Linked DNA regions of Homo sapiens. The protein of the gene in region 3 purifies or fractionates together with the protein of the main gene of each other region. This does not show direct contact. Each region holds a gene or a part of one and is shown on either strand. Other genes may lie near its edges.

The links.
Region 1: the proteins of TBX3 (region 3) and SVIL purify together in Homo sapiens (affinity purification with mass spectrometry, with the first as the bait; one large-scale study listed by BioGRID). This does not show direct contact.
Region 2: the proteins of TBX3 (region 3) and ANXA5 purify together in Homo sapiens (affinity purification with mass spectrometry; one study listed by BioGRID and IntAct). This does not show direct contact.
Region 4: the proteins of TBX3 (region 3) and TMPO purify together in Homo sapiens (affinity purification with mass spectrometry, with the first as the bait; one large-scale study listed by BioGRID). This does not show direct contact.
Region 5: the proteins of TBX3 (region 3) and USP10 purify together in Homo sapiens (affinity purification with mass spectrometry, with the first as the bait; one large-scale study listed by BioGRID). This does not show direct contact.

The regions. Positions count from the first base shown.
Region 1 is NC_000010.11:29,459,933-29,464,606, forward strand, and holds part of SVIL (supervillin), read right to left. Parts: intron 3,704-4,674; coding exon 3,560-3,703; intron 2,470-3,559; coding exon 2,345-2,469; intron 1-2,344.
Region 2 is NC_000004.12:121,675,598-121,680,271, forward strand, and holds part of ANXA5 (annexin A5), read right to left. Parts: exon of another isoform or gene 2,898-4,674; coding exon 2,818-2,897; intron 2,354-2,817; coding exon 2,297-2,353; intron 1-2,296. UniProt on the Homo sapiens protein: This protein is an anticoagulant protein that acts as an indirect inhibitor of the thromboplastin-specific complex, which is involved in the blood coagulation cascade.
Region 3 is NC_000012.12:114,669,235-114,672,619, forward strand, and holds the end of TBX3 (T-box transcription factor TBX3), read right to left. Parts: intron 3,069-3,385; coding exon 2,607-3,068; 3' UTR 1,021-2,606; downstream 1-1,020.
Region 4 is NC_000012.12:98,524,756-98,529,429, reverse strand, and holds part of TMPO (thymopoietin), read right to left. Parts: intron 1,545-4,674; coding exon 1,418-1,544; intron 1-1,417. UniProt on the Homo sapiens protein: May help direct the assembly of the nuclear lamina and thereby help maintain the structural organization of the nuclear envelope. Possible receptor for attachment of lamin filaments to the inner nuclear membrane.
Region 5 is NC_000016.10:84,747,326-84,751,999, reverse strand, and holds part of USP10 (ubiquitin carboxyl-terminal hydrolase 10), read right to left. Parts: intron 1-4,674. UniProt on the Homo sapiens protein: Hydrolase that can remove conjugated ubiquitin from target proteins such as p53/TP53, RPS2/us5, RPS3/us3, RPS10/eS10, BECN1, SNX3 and CFTR.

The DNA.
Region 1 (4,674 bases), on a different chromosome or scaffold from region 3:
ATACAAAAATAGGCTAGGCATGGAAGTGTGCACCTGTAGTCCTACCTACTTGGGGTGGCTGAGGTGGTAGGGTCGTTTGAGCCCAGGGGTTCAAGGTTTGTGTGAGCCATGATTGAGTCACCACACTGCAGCCTGGGTGACAAAGCAAGATCCTTTCTCTAAAAAAAGAAGAGGCGAATTTTGGATGATCTTGCCTGCGTCTGAGTACTGACTCCTCCACTCACTGAAAGTCACTTTGGCCAAGTGACTTCGTGTTTTTGTGTCTCTGCTCCCACACCAGTAAAATGGGAATAATAATAAGATATCTTGATGGACTGTTGTGATAAATGAGAAAATCAGTGTAAAGTGCTTGGAGATGTGCCTAGTGCAGAGTGGGCACTTGCTGAATGTTAATTATTTGTATAACTTGCTGGTGTGGGAAGCCTGACTCTTCTCCGGCTGGAATCCCACAGGCCTGCACAACAGTAAATGGCCCCGCTGCTAACCCCCAAGATCTATAGTGAATACACAGGGAGGATGGTGAGTTATATCCTTCTGAAAGTGGCTCAACTGTGCCACAGAACTGATGTTTATGATTTCTTTGGAATAAACGTCGAAATTAACTCTCCTAGTCTTGAAATTCGAGAAAGTTATATTTGTCTTATCTGAGTTCCTTTCTCAGGAAACCAACCATCAGGCATCTCCAATAGTATCAAAAAGCCAGCAGTGGCTCATGCTTGTAATCCCAGCACTTTGAGAGGCTGAGGTGGGCAGATGGCTTGAGCTCAGGAGTTCAAGACCAGACTGAGAGACATGGCAAAACCTCATTGAAAATACAAAACAAATTAGCCAGGCATTATGGTGTGTGCTTGTAGTCCCAGCTACCTGGGAGGCTGATGTGGGAGGATTGTCTGAGCCTGGAGCTGGAGGCTGCAGTGAGCTGTGATTACACCACTGCACTCCAGCCTGGGCAACAGAGCAAGACCCTGTCTCAAAAAACAAAAACAAAACCTGAAGCTTACCAGACCCCTTACCCACCATGATGCCTAACCAACCCCCCGCTTCCTGTTGACCAGCTCCTCTTCCTCACCCCTCCCTAATTCCTGTTTCCCACACATGGTTACATTTCTTCCCTGCTATAAAAATCCCTAATTTTAGTAGGCCAGAGACACAGATTTGAGACTTATGTCCTGTTCCCCTTGGCTGTAGCACCCAAATAAACTTTCTTCCTTGGCTATGCTTGTCTCAGTGATTGGCTTTCTTCTGTGTAGTGAGCAATAAGCCCTGGACTGAACCCCTGGCAATTTGGTAACTCCTGAACTTAGACTGCATGCAGCAGCCATAGAGCTCGTAATCCCTAGAGCCTTCTGGTTTCACGAAACCACAGTTGCAGTGAACAGAAACATCTCGTTCCGGCTGCGGCAGACACCAAGCTGAAGTCAGCCCCTTCCCTGTGTACATCAAGTCCATTTGGCTCCAGGGAGACAGGTTAGGGTGAGCAGTGATGTCTGTACTACCCAACAGGCCCTCTCCATTGCTAAGCAGAAGTAGATTCTGTTTGTTTAAAATTACTCGAATTTCCTATAAAATACACTTGGGTCGTTTCCCCAAGCAAAGCAGCTCTCACATGGTAAAAAAAAATCAAAATGGTAAAAAACCTATCTCTCACCAAATCAAAACAAATCCTTGGATTTGCTATTCCTAGCAATGTTAATAGCTCATATATAAGAAATTCAACATAGCTATAATAAAATTCTTTCCTGTGTGGTTGGAAAAGAAAACATTCTAGATTATAATATATTTTGGTGGATAGAAGTTATGATAAATGCCTCATGCAGAAATACCAGGTGGTCTCATAAAAGACAATATTAATGAGATGTTGAGTGATCCCTTATCATAAGGGAGTCGCAGCACCTCCATTCATTCAGTTTTCTGAACATACTAATTCATCAGATTTCGTTTGTGTCTCCTCTACACAAGGTTAACATCTGAAACATGAGGGTTTGGTTGTGCGTCACATGGACACTGAGAGACAAGCAATGCCAAGCAACAGGTTCTTAGCAAACAGAATGAAGAGTTCGCAGCTTTTATGTACATATATAGTCCTCAACATGATTCAACTCACCTTTGCTTTTAAGTTTTTAAAATTTGGGTATCGTGTAGAAAATTACTAAAATAGTTAATTGATTTTCCATTAGACTTCTCTTCTTCCTAAGCAAATTCTATGTAGGTTTGTTAAGATGTTGCAAAAGGAAAAATATTTTCCCACTCTGAAAGTGCAATTGGATGCTCTCCCCAAAGTAAAGTTAACCCACAATCCAAAAGGCGCAGGAGCCACCTTCATAGGGCAGGAAAGCGTGCTCACCATCTCTGTGATCTCAGCGATGTCCTCTCTGTGCTCCCAGCTGGGAAACATATTGGTGAATGTCAGGGGCTCCAGACCAGCGTGGATAAGGTAAGACTTGGGGGCTGGTTTCTTGAGATTTTTTCCTGTAGTTACACAGATTGCAATGTCAGTAGACCCCAGGGAGACCCTGTCTTTCTCTGATTTCCCTTGAAATCTTTTCTTCTTTGCCAGAACTCATGACTTCATGCTTAAAATGCAAGTTACCAGTAGTTCATAACAACACATGGATAATGTTTATATAAGATGTTTGTTAGTTTCATGCCTGTGACTACCATAGTGACCTATAATCAACCTGAGTCTATACTTCTTGAACCTAACAAAACGCTGTGTATTCCTGGAAGGGAGAGAGAGGCTCTGTCTGCAGCTTCTGGGTGGAGCATTTTCTTCCTCCTGAATTCACCTGTAGAGTCATCCGTCTCATTTCCTAGCACAGGATTAACTCCCATAATGACTGACGGCGAACGACAGCATCTTATACATCCACATTCACTATAACATTGAGTGGAAGGTTTCATATGTTATTTATTGCTAAAGAGTTTTTCAGGAAGAGAATCCATTGCACATACTCAGTGACATTAAACTAGTTGTGTCAATGAAACCATAAAAATTAAATAAGATTAATTACTGGCATTTTCATTTTATATAAAAGACTAGAAATTTCATGTGTATAGTAAAGAACCATGAACTTACTATGGGTATTTCTCTTTGGATATAATACTAAAAATAATAATGAATAATAAAAAGGTTGGCAATGGCCGTTCACTGTTTGGGGGAGACCTCCATTCTCCAACAGCGTGGTAGTGCTTGCAGATAATGTACAGGGCAGAGGCCAACTTGTCTCTCAGCATGATCAACCCCGAGTACAGCGGGGTTTTAATCTGCCTGGGGCATTCCACAATACAGCCTTTATCCTTGAGGGTAACAAGTTAGCCTCATAATATCAGAGAGAAAAACTAGTTCTTCTTCATGCTGGCAGCTGAGAATGCGCTAATCTAAAACTTAATACATCTCAAAAAGTTAAAGGGGAAAAAATTGGTTTCATCACCACCTGCCAGGCTTTATGGATGGATGCTGGCTGACATGCACAGAAGGGGAAGGGGGTCTCCTGGCTGCGCATGCCTGAGGGGCTTCCCCATCTGTTCCGTGCTGCAGGCATGTTAGAGGGAGCCTCACCTTTGCAGTACTGGAGCACAGTCTCCATCGCACTCTTCCGGTCGGAGGCCCAGCGGATGCGGGCGGAACCAGTGATCTTGTTCTCGATGGGCCACCAGCCTTGCCAGAGGTACACCTCGTGGTGATTGTCAACAAGGAAAAGTGCTGTGAGGGCAGGGACAGGGCCAGACCATCAGGAGCTCCTTCACGGACACTTCTAGCTCACTCCTCCCCCAACCTAGTGGATGTTGTCCCTCTTGACTGCAGTGTCACAGGGGGAAACCCCCTTGGCCATCAAACCAGGGGCAAAGGGGCAAACAGAGAAACCCAGGATACCCCAGCCCTTTGACAGTTCAACGGGGAGAAGCCTGTAGGCAGAGAGAAGTGGTGTCAAGGAGTTGGTCTTTTTCATTCCTCGTCCTCCAGGTCCTCCTCCCTTTGCCCCAGCTCAAGGCCCTGGCCCTTCTGGATACTGGCAGGGCTGTGCTAAGAGTGGAAGGGATAATGCATGTGCCACTCAAGGGGCTGTTAGCACCGCATATCTCCAAAGAGCACAATCAACACTGGAGCGCACATCTCACTGCAGACAGGTCAGTGGCGTTCCTGCCCTGCACGCGATTGCTTAGCAGTGAGGTGAGCTCATGGCTCTCTTACAGAGAAATGGGCCTTAAAAAGCAAAACTGCCACCGGGAGTGGTGGCTCATGCCTGTAATCCCAGTGCTTTGGGAGGCTGAGGAGGAAGGACTGCTTGAGCCCGGAGGTTGAAGACCAGCCTGGGCCACATGATGAGACCCTATCTCTACAAAAAGAAAAAAAAAATTAGCGAGGCATGGTGCTGCATGCATGTAGTCTCCACTACTCAGGAAGCTAAGGAGAGAGGATCGCTTGAGCCCAAGAGTTAGAGGCTGCAGTGAGCCATGACTGCGCCACTGCACTCCAGCCTGGATGACAGAGTAAGACCCTGTCTCTAAAAAATAAAATAAAAGGAAATAAAAATCAAAACTGTTCTACTGCCTTTTCCTCCTACCTTTTTCTCCTCCTCAAATTGTCAGTCTGACTCTTACTCCAGGTGGCAAAATGCCTCTCACTCTTGCTAGTCGGCTCACTGTAAGTCCTTTCCTGACATGCATTTCAGG
Region 2 (4,674 bases), on a different chromosome or scaffold from region 3:
GATACTTTAAAGTAACTCCATAAAGCAGTTTTCACATGTACAGTCTCACATGTACTCTCAGGGTTCTGAATGGTTATATCCACTGCATGACACGTAAGTGTCACCTATACAGCCTCAGTAATCAAAGGACCAAGAATGCAGGCATTACCTGAGAGCATGTTCAAAATCCAGACTCCCAGCCCCTGCCCAGACCCATAGAATCAGAATCTGCAATTAAAGGTCCCAGGTGCGCCACATGCCCATGAAAGTTTGAGCAGCAGTGCTATCCAGTAAGTGCTCCAAGGACAGAAATCAATGAAAACAAGGTTAAAATGTACTGTTTTCCCCTCAGGAGCCTCGTGCTGCAGCAATGCTCTCATTACATCACCAACTATGCTGGGAAATCTGCCCTCTGCCTGTGAATGCAGGCCTCACTGCAGACATCTGAGAGGACTAGAGTTGGTTTCTTACACTGTGACCCTGAAAAGCTCCCAGAACTCCTATCCTACTCTTGACAGTAGGAATGAGAGAATCAGCACTATCTCCTAGCAAAGCCACAACCAATGCTTGGAAAGCAGTAAGATCACCTCAGTACTGAACAAAGCCCCTAACAGGAGTACAACTCTGTAGGGTTGCTCTAGCCCTCTTCCCGAAAGAAGGTGGAATTAAGCTAGATCTATGCTTGAGTTGATATTTAATAAGCCCTTTAATGATAGAGAAAATCAGGGAAGGCACTAATACTCAAGAACACTGAATATCTTACAGTGAAATATTCTTATAGTGAAATATTAATATTCAATAACACTGACTATCTTCTAGTGAAAGAGAAAGAGCTTTGGAGTCAGACAGGCCTCGTTAGGAATTCCAACTCCACTGCTATTCAGTGGAAGCCATGGGTTTGTTTCTTTATCCATAAAAGGGAAATTGCCCCTTTCTGGTAGAGTTATGTGCTCATTCATTCATCAGTTATTTACTGAGCACCTACTCTATGCCAGAAGCTGAGGATACAATTGAACTGACAGCTCAGGGGGCCCAGGAAGGCAGTGAAGTAAATAGATGGCTTCCAGAGAACGTGGCAAGAACTGTGACAGGAAGCCTGGGGGCGGGGGGGGGTATGGTTTTCCCTGTGAGGGGCACCTAACTCTAAAGTATCTAAGCTGAAGACTGACTCTTGAAGAGGACTCAGGTGAAGCGGGGTGGGAGGGGCAAGAGGGCAGAGAGAGCATGTGAGAGAGGCTGGAGGCATAAGTAAACAACACACAGATAACAAAGGGGCTTGTAACCCATTCAGGAACCCGGACTTTATCCTGAGGGCAATGGAACCACCAGAGTCTGAAGGGGCTGGACACAATTGGCTTGCATTTTCTAAGACAGAGTGAAGCAAGAGTCAAATACTGCACAGAGAGCCCTCGGTAAACATTCAGTTCTTTTTTTCTCTCCAGCTAGACAGAGATGACAGCATTCTGAAACCATTATAAAATCAACCTACCCAAAAGAATAACCGCTCTCCTCTTTCCTGTTAGCAAAGTGAGATCGCATATCCATGGGTTGTTCCACTGGAGGAATGAATATGGCTCTTCCTTTTTCAATGATACATGACAAACAACCAAGAATTGTATATTCTCTTAATTGAAACATGTGACCAGAAAGAGGTCTATGATTGGTGGTTCTAGGAACCCAAGTAATTCCTTTATTACCAATTTCCAGTTTTCAGCTCTCATGTTTCAAATTTCCTTTCCTATATTTTAATAACTGTTTTATTAACCAGACTGAGACTTTATAGGGGTTTATAAGTCACTTAAGAGGAAATTTTCATTTGGAGTCACTAAAAAGCTGCTGACAGAAGACCAATCCTACTTAAAATTCTGTCGAAGGAAATGCAGAGAAATTTCCTAATACCAAAATAACTTGTCATCTCTTATGTAATTAAACACCACTTACTGTTAAATACTTTATTCTTTCTTCTTTATCTTCTCCTGCTAAGAGACCCACTGCATAATTGGCAGTGGAAGTAATAACACTGTTTTTTGGTAAAATTCTCTATTTTGTGAATGTTCAATAATCACAAAAAAAAACATGTCTAGTTGGAACTCACTATATAATTTATTTTATTTCGTTTCAGCTTTAAGGTAAAATATTTTGCTGACCAGGTCAGAATAAGAAAAAGCTACTTATGTAGGTCTTATGCTATGTAAATAACCCATTAACAAGATTATCACTAGAAGCTATTACAACATACATTGTGATTTTTCATTACCATGAATTATTTCTTCATTTCTACAGCATAATAAAGTCATCATATCCTGGTGTCACTCACCTGAGCATCTTGTTCAACTTGAGCTTCATCAATTCCAGCATCAGGGTCTCTGTTAGCCTATGAGAGGTAATATGTCACATTACTGAACTATAGAGCATTCTCATTCAAAAGGAAAAATGGTTCCACCTGATGGTTATTCAATAACACTCTTTCTCTAGGAATAATATGCTTTTATTAAGATCAATCCTGCACTATTTCACGTTATCATCACCCAGCACTGTCCAAAACCAATAATGACCCTACTGATTTTAAATTCTATGAAAGAACAAGATACCGCTATCATTCTATGAAAGGAACAAGATACTACTATCTAAAACATGTATGAGTTAGCTGTTAAGAATTTAGACCAGATATTCTGAAACACAAACAAGCACAGGCAACATACAGTCAGAATCATCGCAGTAAGAATCAGCAAGTACCACAAATTATTAAAAGAATTTTAAGTGACCTTACTTAACTAGATTCAGCCCAGTCCAACTTCAGGCTTTTTAATCAAACTGTAATTAATCTCCACGCAATACCTGAAGGAGAACCACCAACATCCGCTGGTAGTACCCTGAAGTGTCCCCCACCACGTCATCTTCCAGGCTTGAGCCATATTCTGCAACAAAATAATTTCATACTTATTTACATCTTCTTTCAACTAGAAAAGTAATCTTGCCCCATTAATCAAATGAAAGCGATGTAAAAGAAGAAATAATTATATTTGGTTAACATAAATTCCCTCTATTCCATCTCTGAATGCTCTAAGCAAATGCTTTCAGTGAGTGGTTGGACAAAAATGAATTAAAGTCTCCCAAAGGCACTCAATTCAAACTTAAATCAAGACTCAGCCATTTAGAAATTCTCTCGACCAATGTAGTCATTAATCTATAGATACATGATGGTACTGGAAAGTCTCCAAAACACAATCAATCATAAGCTTAAACTCTGTTTTGCTTTCTTTCAAATCTTTTATATGGTTAGCTTCCAAATGTCTTCTATCTCTAATATTCTGAGATTTATTTCTTTGGGCATGGCCATCACTCCTAATAAGGTATTTTTCCTCTGCAGAAATAAAGTTAACTCTTGAGAGACAGCAATGATATTTTAAAGTAGGCCCCCCTCCCACCTCTATTTCCAGCTGCTCAATGTAAGCCCATATAAAAGGGGAGAACTGGGATCTACAAGAGTCTACAAGTCTTTCTCACTACTCTCAAACAGATGCTATTAAAGGAAAGGAGGCCTTACTCTAAGGTATTTAAATATTTAATTATTATGCAAAAGCAAACGAACTTTAAAAGCCTGAAACTTCTATTTTAAAAGGCCCAGAAGAGTTACATGTTTATTTCAACAAGTTACCCAAATACAAAACCTTGTAGGAATCTTTAATTCTTTCTTCTACACCAACACCTGTAAATATTAACCATTAAATCCTATCACGTTTCTCCTGTCCCTGATTTATCCTCCTCACACCTCTCACTCACCTAGGTTGGGCCACAATTCCTAAATACCTAGCTTACCTCCCACACACATAACTATCCAATTAGCCTCTCAATTCAAATCTCCTTCCTCCCTCAATTGTTCCTTCAGCACTCCACTGCTCATTCAGGAATTTACAGTGCCTGTGAATTAAGTCCAAATTCCTAATCCAGTCATGCAAAACCATCTATATCTGAGCCTAACCTCGCTTGTTCCATTTACCTCCCACAATGGACATGCACACATCCTCCACAGCAGCCAGGCCCTCTCCGTCCCTCAATACACTCTCCACAGTCCAGTCTCCATGCCATTAAAGACAGGCAGTACCTCACCCAAAAATATCTTTTCTACCTACTCAAAATGCACCTAGTCTTTTTTTCCCAGCTTTATTGAGTTATGATGGACAAATAAAAATTGTATATATTTAAGGTATACACCATGATGTTTTCATATATGTGTACGTTGTGAAATGATTACCACAATCAAGTTAATCAGCATATCCATCACTTCATATAGTCTATATTTTTGTGTGTGGTGAGGACATTTAAAATATACTGTATTCACAAATTTCAAGCATATAATAGTTATACTTTCACTATAGTCACCACGCTGTTCATGAGATCCCCAGAACTTATTCATCCTGCCTAACTAAAATCGTGTATGCTTTGACCAATATTTCACCAGTCCCTTCTCCCATTCACCCCACCCCTACACCCTAGCAAACACTGTTTTACTATCTGTTTCTATGAGTTCAATTTTTTTAGATTCAACATAAGAAGTGAGATCATGCATAGCTTATGCCTTGTGCCTAGCTTATTTCACTTTGCATTATGTCCTCCACGTTTATCCATGATGTTGAAATGACAGGATTTCCCCTCTTTAAGACTGAACAGTACTCCTGTGTGTGTGTGTCTGTG
Region 3 (3,385 bases):
CTAAGGACTAACCCTCGAACCTTCCCGTGCCGCCCCCGCCCCCCAACAGACACACACCTCGGAGGCGAGGCTGGGGGTCGGGAGACCAAAAGACTGACAGTGCCTCATCATTTTTTATTGAATGTTTCAAAGATAAATTGAACTTCAAAAGGCAACTCCCCGAACAGCCTGGAGACGGGTTTGAAGGGGAGACTAGGGGAGGATGTCAGCCTCCTGGGTGACTTTTGCCGTGGAGGGGGTGAAATGTGCACCCTGGAATTACCTTTCCCCTTTCGGGGATAATTTCCCTCCTCCCTCGCGTGACACAGCTAAGTTTTCGCGGAGCTGGCCGCGCTTTGCACGCACAACTCGGGATGGATGGGGCCTCGTAGGGGCGCCTTGGGCCAGCCGGGTTCAATTTGAGGCACCAGGGACTGCAGGCTGTGTGGGGGGTTGCCGAGTGGAAAGGCGTTGCGTCTTGTCCACTTCTACAACCTGGAGGGTTGCTGCCTAGCCAAGCCCGCTCGGACTGCTGGGGCATTCTGCTGGCCTTTTCCCCGAGCCAAACACACTGGTGCAAGAAGGTATTTTCGACTTGGATTCGCCAGATTGATGTCAAAACTGAGGGCGAGCTTAAAACGAAAAACATTCGTACTTGCCGAGCTTACTTTTGGTCGGATTCGGGTGGGAAAACCTGACTTAGGGAGCACATCAGTCTTTTTCCATTAAAACTTAAAAGTATCTGAAATTACCCTTCTTTCTGTATTCTCATCAGGCCCCTTTCCGTCTCCCTGCTTTGCTCCCTAATTTAAAGGAAAAGTAATTTCAGATTGAAGTGGCTCCCTTCGCTCAAGTAAGGGACTTTTGTTTTTAGCTTTGTAACTTGAGTGACATCTCATTTTGGTTCGCTGGGGGCGGTCTTAATTATTTAAAGGCGAAGGGAAGGGGGTAAACTCAGAACAAGAAGATACTAAACCCTCCCCTGACTGTCCATCTTCAGGAAAGGTTCCCAAAGAAAAAACATTTAACACAAGGCCCAAAGACATTTCAATAAAAATTTATTGAAATTTCAGTGATGTTTTAAAGAGAGGGGGAAAAATACAGAAAACCAAAGAACTCATCAACAACTATAACACAAAATATACCTTCATGAATTTGTCTTTAAACCATCTCTCAGCACCTGACTTTTGAACTGTGAATATATCTCTATAGGCAGGCACCAATTCAAAACACCGATACTGACAACAGTAGTAAATTCCACTTCGTTTTGAGGAAATCAGAGACTAGCAAATACAAATAACAAAAGAAAAATTAAAAAGTCAAACCGCAGCCTCTGCCCTCCTCCCTCCCCACAGCAATCTCAGTTATATTTTAAGGAATTTGAAGTGGAGCTGGAAAGTGGCACTCCTTCCCCAATTTTGGTGAAAATAGGAAATAGCACTTTCCCCCACTTTTGGACATTAAAAAAGAAAACAAAAATGTTGCAGACAACTCTTTTGAAAGGGTATTGGTGTTGGTGCAGGAAGTGTGTTTTCTAGTGTTAACAGCAATTCTGTGACCTGGAAATAAACCCAACTAAAGGAAAACAAGAACACAAAACCTGACAGTTGCAATTCTATTTACACAGAGCTATGTACAATGTCAATAAATTAAAGTTTAATTTTCCAAGCATTCATATTCCACCTATTTACAAGAGTTATCAAATAATTACATAAATACTTTGTCTAATAGTCTCACTTCTTTATTATTTTTTTAAAACCTTGTTATTGCATATACAGGAAAGAGAAAGAACTGTCAAAGAACGACATGAATCCTGCTACAGAGCTTAGATATAATAAATTCATTTTATGTGTTTTGCCCACTCCTTCCCTTTAAATCCCCCCCTCCCTTGGGTCACTGATTTGAGGGCAAAGGATTGGGAAAAGGGTAGGGGGCTATATTGTTTTCTCTCTAAAAGCAAGCGTTCAAAATAAAAACCACAAATACATTACTGTGGACATGCAAGAAGAGACCTACAGCGGCTCTGAAAACATCACAAGAATATTAAAAAGACACAGATTTTCTTAATATAGACTAAACAAGGATGGTAGGGACTTCCCTCCCCAAACAAAGCTGCTCAGTAATTTATTGAGAACCGATAATGCAAGTCCCTATAAAGTTTTTAATCTGCACAAACAGAATCATGTTAATGTGTTCACTTGTCCCGATTTTTTTTTTGAAAGATTTTGTTTTTGTTTCCACTTGACACAGTGAAGGAAAAATATATATATAAATCCGCACTGAGGGAGATGTCTTTGAACACCTCCCCGCCTGGTGGGCAGAGACCCAGACCAGCCTTGCTGGAAGTTGCTCTGGACATAAATGTTGGAACTCCTACCCCCAGTAGCTCAATGCAACCGACGTTTCTGAGCCCCCAGAATCTGATCCAGATCCCGGACATATAAACCACGCCAAGAAGACAGGGGCTGTCTCTAGCACATTCTCTCGAGGGAGTCCGGGGCCCCTTCCCAGACGCAACTGCAAAAGGAAGGGCTAACGCCATGGCGGGCCCGTGGTTTATTTTATATCCGACAAAGTGCACGGCAGCCTGAACTGGACTGGAATGAAAAGACGTGTCTGGGACGGGTCTACGGGGACGCGCTGCGGGACCTGTCCGGCTTGGCTTCCAAGCCGCTAACCAACCGCTGGATGCTCTGCAGTTCGCTGGTGGCCGCCTCTTTCTCCGCGCAGAGTTTGGGCGACAAGGACATGGAGCTGGAGGAGAGCGTGGAGGAGCGGCTGTTGAGTTCAGAGCCCGAGTCCACTGCCACCGAGGCCGGGCTGGCGGCCAGGGCGGCGACTTTGCCGTCCAGGGGCCCCGCGGCCGCCGCCATGGAGGGCAGGGCGGTGGTGAGCAGACTGCTGCCGTCCGGGACCGGCACCGGGATGGAGTAGGGGCTGTAGCGCAGCCGCGGGCGCATGGTGTTCAGATTGAGGAAGGGGTGGCGGTGCACCGAGCTGGAGGCTGCCGCAGAGGAGGCGGCCGCCGCTGCGGCCATGTACGTGTAGGGGTAAGGGAACAGGCTTCCGAAAGGGGACATGGCCAGGCCCTGGGGTGAGAAAAGAGACACACAGCGAGTCAGCCGGGTGGGAGGAGCTTATCTCATCCCTCTCCTCTCTTCTCCCCCTCCAACATTGGGCAAGCCATGAATCCCTGGTATGTTCTGTTGTTGTTGTTGTTGTGTTTTTTTTTTTGGGGGGGGAGATAGGTGGGGGCAGGAGAGAAGTCAACACTCAGAAATCTCTAGGTACAAATCTTAGCTGTGTCACCCTAGGCCAAGAGACTTTGATTAACTTGTGCCTCAGCTTCCTTATAGGAAGAAAAAACAGGGAAATCATAAGTAATTCATATACTTATTGAGGACTT
Region 4 (4,674 bases), about 16 Mb from region 3:
TTTAAGGGTATAATTCCTCAATTCCAATCAAGATAGGACTTTCAAAAGGGTACTTTTAATGATAAATGAAAAAGGGGCTCAGCGCGGTGGCTCACACCTGTAATCCCAGCACTTTGGGAGCCTGAGGTGGGTGGGATCACCTGAGGTCGGGAGTTTCAGACCAGCCTGGCCAACATGGCAAAACCCCATCTCTACTAAAAATATAAAAATTAGCCGGGCATGGTGGCAGGTGCCTGTAATCCCAGCTATTCGGGAAGCTGAGGCTGGAGAACTGCTTGAACCTGGGAGGCAGAGGTTGCAGTGAGCCAAGATCACACCATTGTACTCTAGCCTGGGCAACAAGAGCGAAACCCCGTCTCAAAAAAAAAAAAAAAATAGGGTACTAGGCTAGGAATTTAATAACTTCATTAAGAAGAAGTCTGTCACTAACTCACTTTTTCTTTTTCCCTTATTTATTTATTTTTTTTGAGACAGGGTCTTGCTCCACTGCCCCTGGCTGAAGTACAGTAGCCATCACGGCTCACTGCAACTTTGACTTCCCCCCACCATCTCAAGCAATCCTCCTGCCTCAGCCTCCTAAGTAGCTGGGACAATAGATTTGTGACACCACACCCTGCTAATTTTAAAATTTTCTGCAGAGATGGGATCTCCCTATGTTGCTCATGCTGTTCTTCAACTCCTGGGCACAAGCAATCCTCCCATCTTGGCCTCCCAAAGTGTTGGGATTACAGGTGTGAGCTACTGCGCCCGGCCATTAACTCATTTATTTGGGCAAATTTGCCCAGCTATGTTACCTCAGATTTTCCTCAATTGTCATACAAGACCCACGTCTCAGCAGAAGTACGATATAAGTGGCCAGGCACGGTGGCTCACACCTGTAATCCCAGCACTTTGGGAGGCCGAGGCAGGCGGATCACAAGGTCAGAAGATCGAGACCATCCTTGCTAACACGGTGAAATCCCATCTCTACTGAAAAATACAAAAAATTAGCCAGGCGTGGCAGCGGGCGCCTGTAGTCCCAGCTACTCAGGAGGCTGAGGCAGGAGAATGGCATGAACCCGGGAGGCAGAGCTTGCAGGGAGCCGAGATCGCGTCACTGCACTACAGCCTGGGCGACAGAGCAAGACTCCGTCTCAAAAAAACAAAAAACAAAACAAAACCAAAAAAAAAAAAAAAAAGTACGATATAAGCACCATATAAAACAATCTCAACAATAGAGGTAATTTTGGAGATTATCTAATTCAATCCTCTCATTTTATTTCACTCATTTACAGTCAAAGAAACACAGGTTCTGCTGATAACAAATGATTAATGACAAACCAGTCCTTGGAACCTAAACTGCTAAACAAAAAGGAGAAAATAATTTGGGGTCCTGCTTCAGAGAAAAGATACTGTATTTGAAATTTTATCAACTTACCCACAATAGGACCAGGATTCACTCCGTATTTCACAAGCTGATCCAAAAGATCTTCATTAGTGAGCTCTGTTACATCTAGATCATCTTTATCTTCTTGTCTGGGTTTATCAGTTTTTTTTGTGGCTTTCTGTAAACAAAGTCCAGTAATCATTTCCATATGAATTAAAGTGTTCACTTACTAGATAATAACCTGTATAACATAAACATGCAAACTCACTACCAAATTGGTTTATAGTAATATTAGGCCTTAGCAATTCCATTAAATTAAGAGCAACTCATTATTGGAGAACACTTTCTAAGTTGAACTGTAATCATACAAACCGCACAGCCAAGCAAGTAACTTAAAGACATTGTTGTTAAAATAGTCCATTTTGGATTACCTATCTAAAAGAGATAGTAATGGCATCAAAAATGCAAAAGAGCAACTAAAAGTAAAACTGACTTTGGGTAACATTTTCTTTTAAATAACCTTTTTTTTTTTTTTTTTAATGATACAGGGTCTAGCTATGTCACCCGGGCTGGAGTACAGTGGCTCCATCTCAGTTCACTGCAACCCCCACCTCCCAGGCTGAAGCGATCCTCCCACCTCAGTCTCCCAAATAGCTGGGACTACAGGTGCGCACCACCACCCTTGGCTTTTTGCCTGTGGTTTTTTTTTTTTGTTTTTTTTTTTTTTTGTAGAGATGGGGTTTTTGCCATGTTGCCCAGGCTGGTCTCAAACTCCTGGACTCAAGTGATCAGCCCACCTTGGCCTCCCAAAGTGTTAGGATTACAGTTGTAAACCACTGCACACAGCCTAAATAACCAAAAATTATATTTCATTTCTTAAAGCATATAACTCCAATGGCAACGGAAACAGATCAGCATGAACCATGGAAAGTAAAGCCAGACTGGGCTTAACATTTTTCATCTAAATGATCATGAATGCTACTTACTAACTTTTTGATAATCCTTAAAAATTTAAATTAATCCAGGAAAGTTTAAGACTTTACCATACAGGCTTACACTTAGATACATATATAGAAATGATTTTCTTTTCTTTTTCTTTTTTTTTTGGAGGTGGAGTCTCGCTCTGTTGCCAGGCTGGAGCGCAGCGGTGCAATCTTGGCTCACTGCAACCTCCGACTCCCGGGTTCAAGCGATTCTCCTGCCTCAGCCTCCCGAGTAGCTGAGAGTACAGGTGTGCGCCACCACGCCCAGCTAATTTTTGTACTTTTAGTAGAGACGGGGTTTCAACATGTTGGCCAGAATGGTCTCGATCTCTTGACCTCGTTATCTGCCCACCTCAGCCTCCCAAAGTGCTGGGATTACAGGCATGAGCCACTGCGCCCGGCCAGAAATGATTTTCTTTAAACAGCATATGAGAACTTAAGAAGGCCAAATGAATACAGTTGGCTCTCCATTCTCCCAAATGAATACAGTTGGGTTCTACATATGTGAATTCAACCAACCACAGATCAAAAATACTTGGGGAAAAAAAAGACAATACGACAATAAAAACACTAACAAAAATACAGTATAACAACTATTTACATAGCACTTACATTGTATTAGGCGTTATAAGTAATCTAGAGATGATCTGAAGTATAAGGGAGGATGTGTGTAGGTTACTACACCACTTTATATTAAGGGACTTACTAAAGCATCCCCAGAGTTTGATATCCATGGCCGGGTCCTGGAACCAATCTCCACCCCAAGGATAGGAGACAGGACTGTAAACTCCTTGTAACACAGTTATTTTAGTAGCTAGTTTATGACTTAGGAAGGAAATCTGACAGACTTCATGGTTAAATTATCACCTGTGACACAGTTTAGTCACCAGATTAACTTCTGTACCACCAGTTTACTAAAAATAGTCAAAATAACTTGAAACAAACTTTGAGGGAAAATTTGAAAGTTTTAAAATTAATTTCTACAAAGGCAGTATTTACTGGAAAAACTATAAATTTCCAAGGTTGAACAAATAAAAAGGAAGCAAAAGTACGGATACCTTTTAAGGCTGTGGCAAACAGCCTGACAAATGCCTCAGTGATCACAGAAAAAACATCAGAGTACTGAACAAAAAAATGGCTAATTAAACAATGGCAACATCAAAGTAAATTTTACGAAAAAGGCTAAAATTATCAAGTTGTATGGAATGCTCACTTTCCAATAATATTAGGGGGAAAAATCAGTCATGATTTGACTATGTACTGGAATTACTGTTTTTAACAATAAAAATGTTCTGACCTAGAATTGTCAGGCTCAAATCAAATCTTTTTTTTTTTTTTTTTTGAGACTGTGCCTCACTCTTATCCAGGCTGGAGTGCAGTGGCGCAATCTTGGCTCACTGCAACCTCTGCATCCAAGGTCCAAGTGATTCTCCTGCCTCAGCCTCCTGAGTAGCTGGGATTACAGGTGTGCACCACCACGCCCGGCTAATTTTTGTATTTTTAGTAGAGACGGGGTTTCAGCATGTTGGCCAGGCTGGTCTTGAACTCCTGACCCCAAATGTTATGCCCGCCTGAGCCTCCCAAAGTCCTAGGATTACGGGCGTGAGCCATGGAACCTGGCCTGAAATACTTCAAATAAAGCAAGATATGAGAAATTCTTTTTAAAAAGCTGCTAATGGCTAATCATTCTATAATCAGAAGCCAAAAAACCTTCACCAAAAAAATAGCTGCTCATAAGAACAATTATGTCAACTTACGAGAAATCTTAAATAGACGGCTGTGGAGAGTTACAGTGAGAGTACTTTTAGCAGGCTTTAATTCACATACATTGCACTGACCTAGAACTGTCAGGCTCATATCTGGAAGCAACCCACACCATAATATCCAAATAGTTGCCTAGGGTCTAAGAGTTCTAAGACTTATTTCTTTCAAGAAAAGATTTAATCAAACAAACTTAATCCTATGTTACTGACTTACTCAAATTTTCCAAAAAGTGCAGTCAGGTAGTACAGAAAAACTAAATAATGCTTAAAATAAAAATAAAACATGGAAAAACAATCAATCAGGTTCAAATTATTTGTACATAATCCCCACTACCACGAGAATGTTCAAATTTACTATCAATAAAACATCCAGGAAATTCCAACTTTTCAAACCCGCCTGAGAGGTTTTCAAGAAATCTCTTTGGGCCAGGTGCAGTGGCTCATGCCTGTAATCCCAGCACTTTGGGAGACCAAGGTGGGTGGATCACTTGAAGTCAGGAGTTCGAGACCAGCATGGCCAACACGGTGAAACCCCGTCTCTTTTAAAAATGCAAAAATTAGC
Region 5 (4,674 bases), on a different chromosome or scaffold from region 3:
CAAGGGCTGCCACAAATCAGCCCACTGAAATTGTTTATCAACTCAAAGGCAATACCAGCATCGTAAACTTTTATGTCATCATAAGCTATGATTATTCTTACACATATTTTACACATCAAATTCTGTTTTCCTAAAATTAGGACTTAGGGGTCATATTAACATTGAAAATCCCTGAAAATGCAAGGTACAGAACTCTGATTCTTAGGGCTCAATAACTGGCCCGTAATCGACATTCTGGTGTTGTTGACCTGCTTTTCTGTCATCATTCTAACTGTCCAGAACATTCTCCAAGTGCTTTTCTTTTCCTCATTACCATCAATTTGGAAGAACACACACTATCTTGGTTATCTAACCAGGTGGAGGACAGCAAAGTGACCAAAATGTACCACTACCCATTGACTACAGATCAACTTATGTTTCTGAAGTGGAAAGATGTATAATAAATGTGAGGCTACAAACATCGAATCAGATGTGGACTAAACTCTCAGTCCACAAGGGTGGATCCCGGTAAACAGGTGCCACGCCTTTTTAACTTAGATCACGCCGCATGACCACTGCCTGTGTACTTCAGAGTTTGAAGAGGAAGTGCAAAATATCTGAGAAACCATTTCCCCCAAGGAGCGGGGGGAAATATATGCATGATTTATAAACTGCCAAAATAAAGATCAGTTTTAGGATACACAGCCATGCTTAATGATGGGGATATGTTCTGAGAAATGTGGCATTAGGCAATTTTGTCATTGTGGGATCACATGCCTAGATGGTATAGCCAACTACACACCTGGGCCATATGCTAGAGCCTATTGCTCCTAAGCTACAAACCCGTACAGCATGTTGTGTACTGAATACCGTAGGCAACTGTAACACAACTCACTGGTCACTAGAAATTGTTTAGCTCCATTATAATCTTATGGGACCACTGTCGTACATGCGGTCTGTTGTTGACTGAAACATCATTAAAGCAGCACATAACTGTATGTTCATTTACACTTAAATAAACACGGACAGGGTAATTCATTAGAGAAGACCCAAATTGTAATAACTTTGTTTCTTGATCCAATGCCTTTTAGGTATAAAACCACTGTGAAAAATCATATAAACAGGTTTTGACTAACAATTCATAATAAATGACATTGCTAGATACCTCAACGCAATGTTTTCAGAGCTGTTCAAGAGCTCAGTTTTCCTAGTTCTCTCTCACTGGAATTTTAACTTATCGGGCAGTTGGCCACTCTTCTTACCCAGCATTATTTATATTCTGTTAAAACAAAATATACTGTTGCATAATTTTGAAAGCAAAACATCAAATACAAAATGGCTCTATTTGTGATGTGAAAGCATCTGATACAATTTCGTCTAGTATATGAGGAATGTTCCTTAGTAAAGACCCAGGAAAAGTACAATGTTCAATGAAAGCATACGTTCAATTTCAAACGTCACATGTTCGTCAACTCCAAAGTATCTGTGCTAATGAGGGAAGCAGCAGCAAAGGCACTCCCCACGTGTCTGCCATACTCACTCTTAACAAGGGTGTCGCGTTTTGCAACTACTTTCAAACACAAGCTATTAAGTTTTGGGTTTTTTTTTTTTTTTTTGAGACAGTCTCACTCTGTGGCCCAGGCTGGAGTGCAGTGGCACGATCTGGGCTCACTGAACCTCCACCTCCCCGGTTCAAGCTATTCTCCTGACACAGCCTCCTCAGTAGCTAGGATTACAGCCATGAGCCACCACGTCCATCTAATTTTTTTATTTTTAGTAAAGATGGGATTTCCCTATGTTGGCCAGGCTGGTCTTGAACTCCTGGCCTCAAGGGATCCACCCACCTCAACCTCCGAAAGTGCTGGGATTACAGGCGTGAGCCACTGTGCCGGGCTGTATTAAGTTTCCTTTTGTTGACTCCTACTGATAAATGGCAACCATCTCCTCTCAGACCAGTCACTGAAACACAGATCCCTCTCCAACCCTCGGCAAGACAGGGCTTTTGTGTTTAGATACATCCTTCCCTTGGGGCTAAAGGAAATCACTGAGTATTCAGTTCACACGCTCTCCCCTGGCGTGTCCTTCTCCTTTCAAATAACAGTTCACACTTGAAAAACAGCCAATGGAACAAAATGTTGACACATAACCTACACCGAGGAGATGGCCTTGCCACCAAGAAGGTCCAAGTAGAACCCGTTAAAGTGGATAGTTTAAGAGTAATCAAGAGTTTAATGTATTTCACTTCAAAATCCCTTATACGTGATTCTTTTAGTCCATCTGCCTTCTTAATTTCACTTCTGATGGCATAAAAACTAGCTGGCATTTATTAAGCAGACTTAACAATAGGGGAAATAGTCCAGAAATGTGAGTATTTGAAACAAACTTGAGATAAAAAATACACAAATTATTCCAAGCATTTTGTGTGTGTATAATTTTTTTTTTTTTTAAAGATGGGGTCTCAGTATGTTGCCCAGGCTGGCCTCGAACTCCCGGGCTCAAGTTATCGAGCCTCAAGCCTCAATCTCCACACTATCATGCCTGGCAGAAAGGAATACATTTAATGTCTAAATCATTCCCTACTCCCTCTTTCCCAAAAGTTAATAACACAAATACCACTGTCTCAGTAGAAACAGTTAGATACTAATGCAAGTCAAACTCTATTATAACCCACATCAACAGATCTTTTAATGAAACTAGACTTTCACTCAGTTAAACGCTGCTTAAAATAAGTGGGCCTACACTTAAAAGTGTGCCCACTAAAGGGAATTTGTGGTAGTGGATCTGACTTGTAACAAACTGAGTATGTTTTACCACTTTTATAAAGTAAATCCCTAAGTAGGAGAATAAAACAACAAAAAAAATTTCAAACAATGCCATTCTCCCTAAGCCCTATATGATCCCAAGGGTTATTCAATGTGACTCTATTGCTCTACTATCTCACGAGACTCCTGAAACTGTCAACAACTACGTTCTGTCTATCGAAGCCTCAACAAACAGGCTGAAAAGAATTATATATTTTTAAAGAAACTACACTTTTGCTCAGAAAATTAAAACATCTTCATAACTGACCTAACCAAATAGGATTAAAAAAATAATCTGTTTGGTAGGGGTTTACAATATGTCCACACAAAAATAATTACGTGGACTGTGTGTGGCAAGGCTTTCCTCTACTACCAGTCATTAAGAGGCCCTTACTTTCAGTGTTTGACAAAGCTACTTCAATTAGACTTTAACATATACAGAACATAACAAACTATTTATCAAACTATATTTAAAGTCATATGACTAAGTAGAATGTTCTAAAACATTTTAAATGAAGCTTTTCTTGGTTATTTTAAATAAAGATAGAGAAAATCTCCCTAAGATGGGAGGTTTTCCTTTGTGGAGCAATTTTAGAAACGAAACTATAATATTCTCAGCTGGGCGCGGTGGCTCACGCCTGTAATCTCAGCACTTTGAGAGGCTGAGGCAGGAGGATCACTTGAGGTCAGGAGCTCAAGACCAGCCTGGCCAACATGGTGAAACTCGGTCTCTACTAAAAATACAAAAATTAGCCTGGCGTGGTGCCAGGCACCTGTAGTCCCAGCTACTAGGGAGGCTGAGGCAGGAGAATTGCCTGAACCCAGGAGGAGAAGGTTGCAGTGAGCCGAGATTGCGCCACTGCATTCCGGCCTGGGCGACAGAGTGAGACCCCCTCTCAAAAATAAAGAAAAGAAAATAAAATTCTCATGACTTCGAACTTAGAATGCACATTTTTAACAGGACCCCACCATGCATTTCTCATTATAGGTTAAAAATAAACTTTTAACTTAGTAATCTATATAAAGGCTTACACAATCTATCTTTTTTTTTTTTTTTTTTTTTTTTGAGATGGAGTCTGGCTCTGTCGCCCAGGCTGGAGTGCACTGGCGCCATCTCGGCTCACTGCAAGCTCCGCCTCCCAGGTTCACGCCATTCTCCTGTCTCAGCCTCCTGAGTAGCTGGGACTACAGGCGCCCGCCACCACGCCTGGCTGATTTTTAGGTTTTTTTTAGTAGAGACGGGGTTTCACCGTGTTAGCCAGGATGGTCTCGATCTCCTGACCTTGTCATCCACCTACAGTATCAGTCCTTGCAATAAATACATTCTGAAAGCTGTATTCAAGAAATCGCCTGGCCTGAGTGCGGTGGCCCACACCTGGAATCCCAACACTTTGGGAGGCTGAAGCGAGCAGATCACTTGAGGTCAGGAGTTTGAGGCCAGCCTGGGCAGCATGGTGAAACCCCATTTCTACTAAAAATACAAAAAAAGATAGCCAGACATTGTGGCATGTGCCTGTAATCCCAGCTACTTGGGAGGCCGAGGCAGGAGAATCACTTGAACCCAGGAGGCGGAGGTTGTAGTGAGCCAAGATCGTGCCTCCTGCACTACAGCCTGAGCAACAGAGTGAGACTGCATCTCAAAAAAAAAAAAAAAAAAAAAAAAAATCACCTGGCTTTAAAAAATATATATGAAGCCCAAAATAACGACGTCTGGCCTATCATTTGCTCATTTAAGAGAACTTCAGAACAACAAGAGTACCTGAGATAATGTATTTTGTATAAGGAATAAAATACTCTTAAAAATATATATACATTGCTTGCTATCACCCTATTGCCACCCAAAGAATGTGTTTTATTTTTTACACAATTCTGACCATCCATCGAAGGGTGTGCA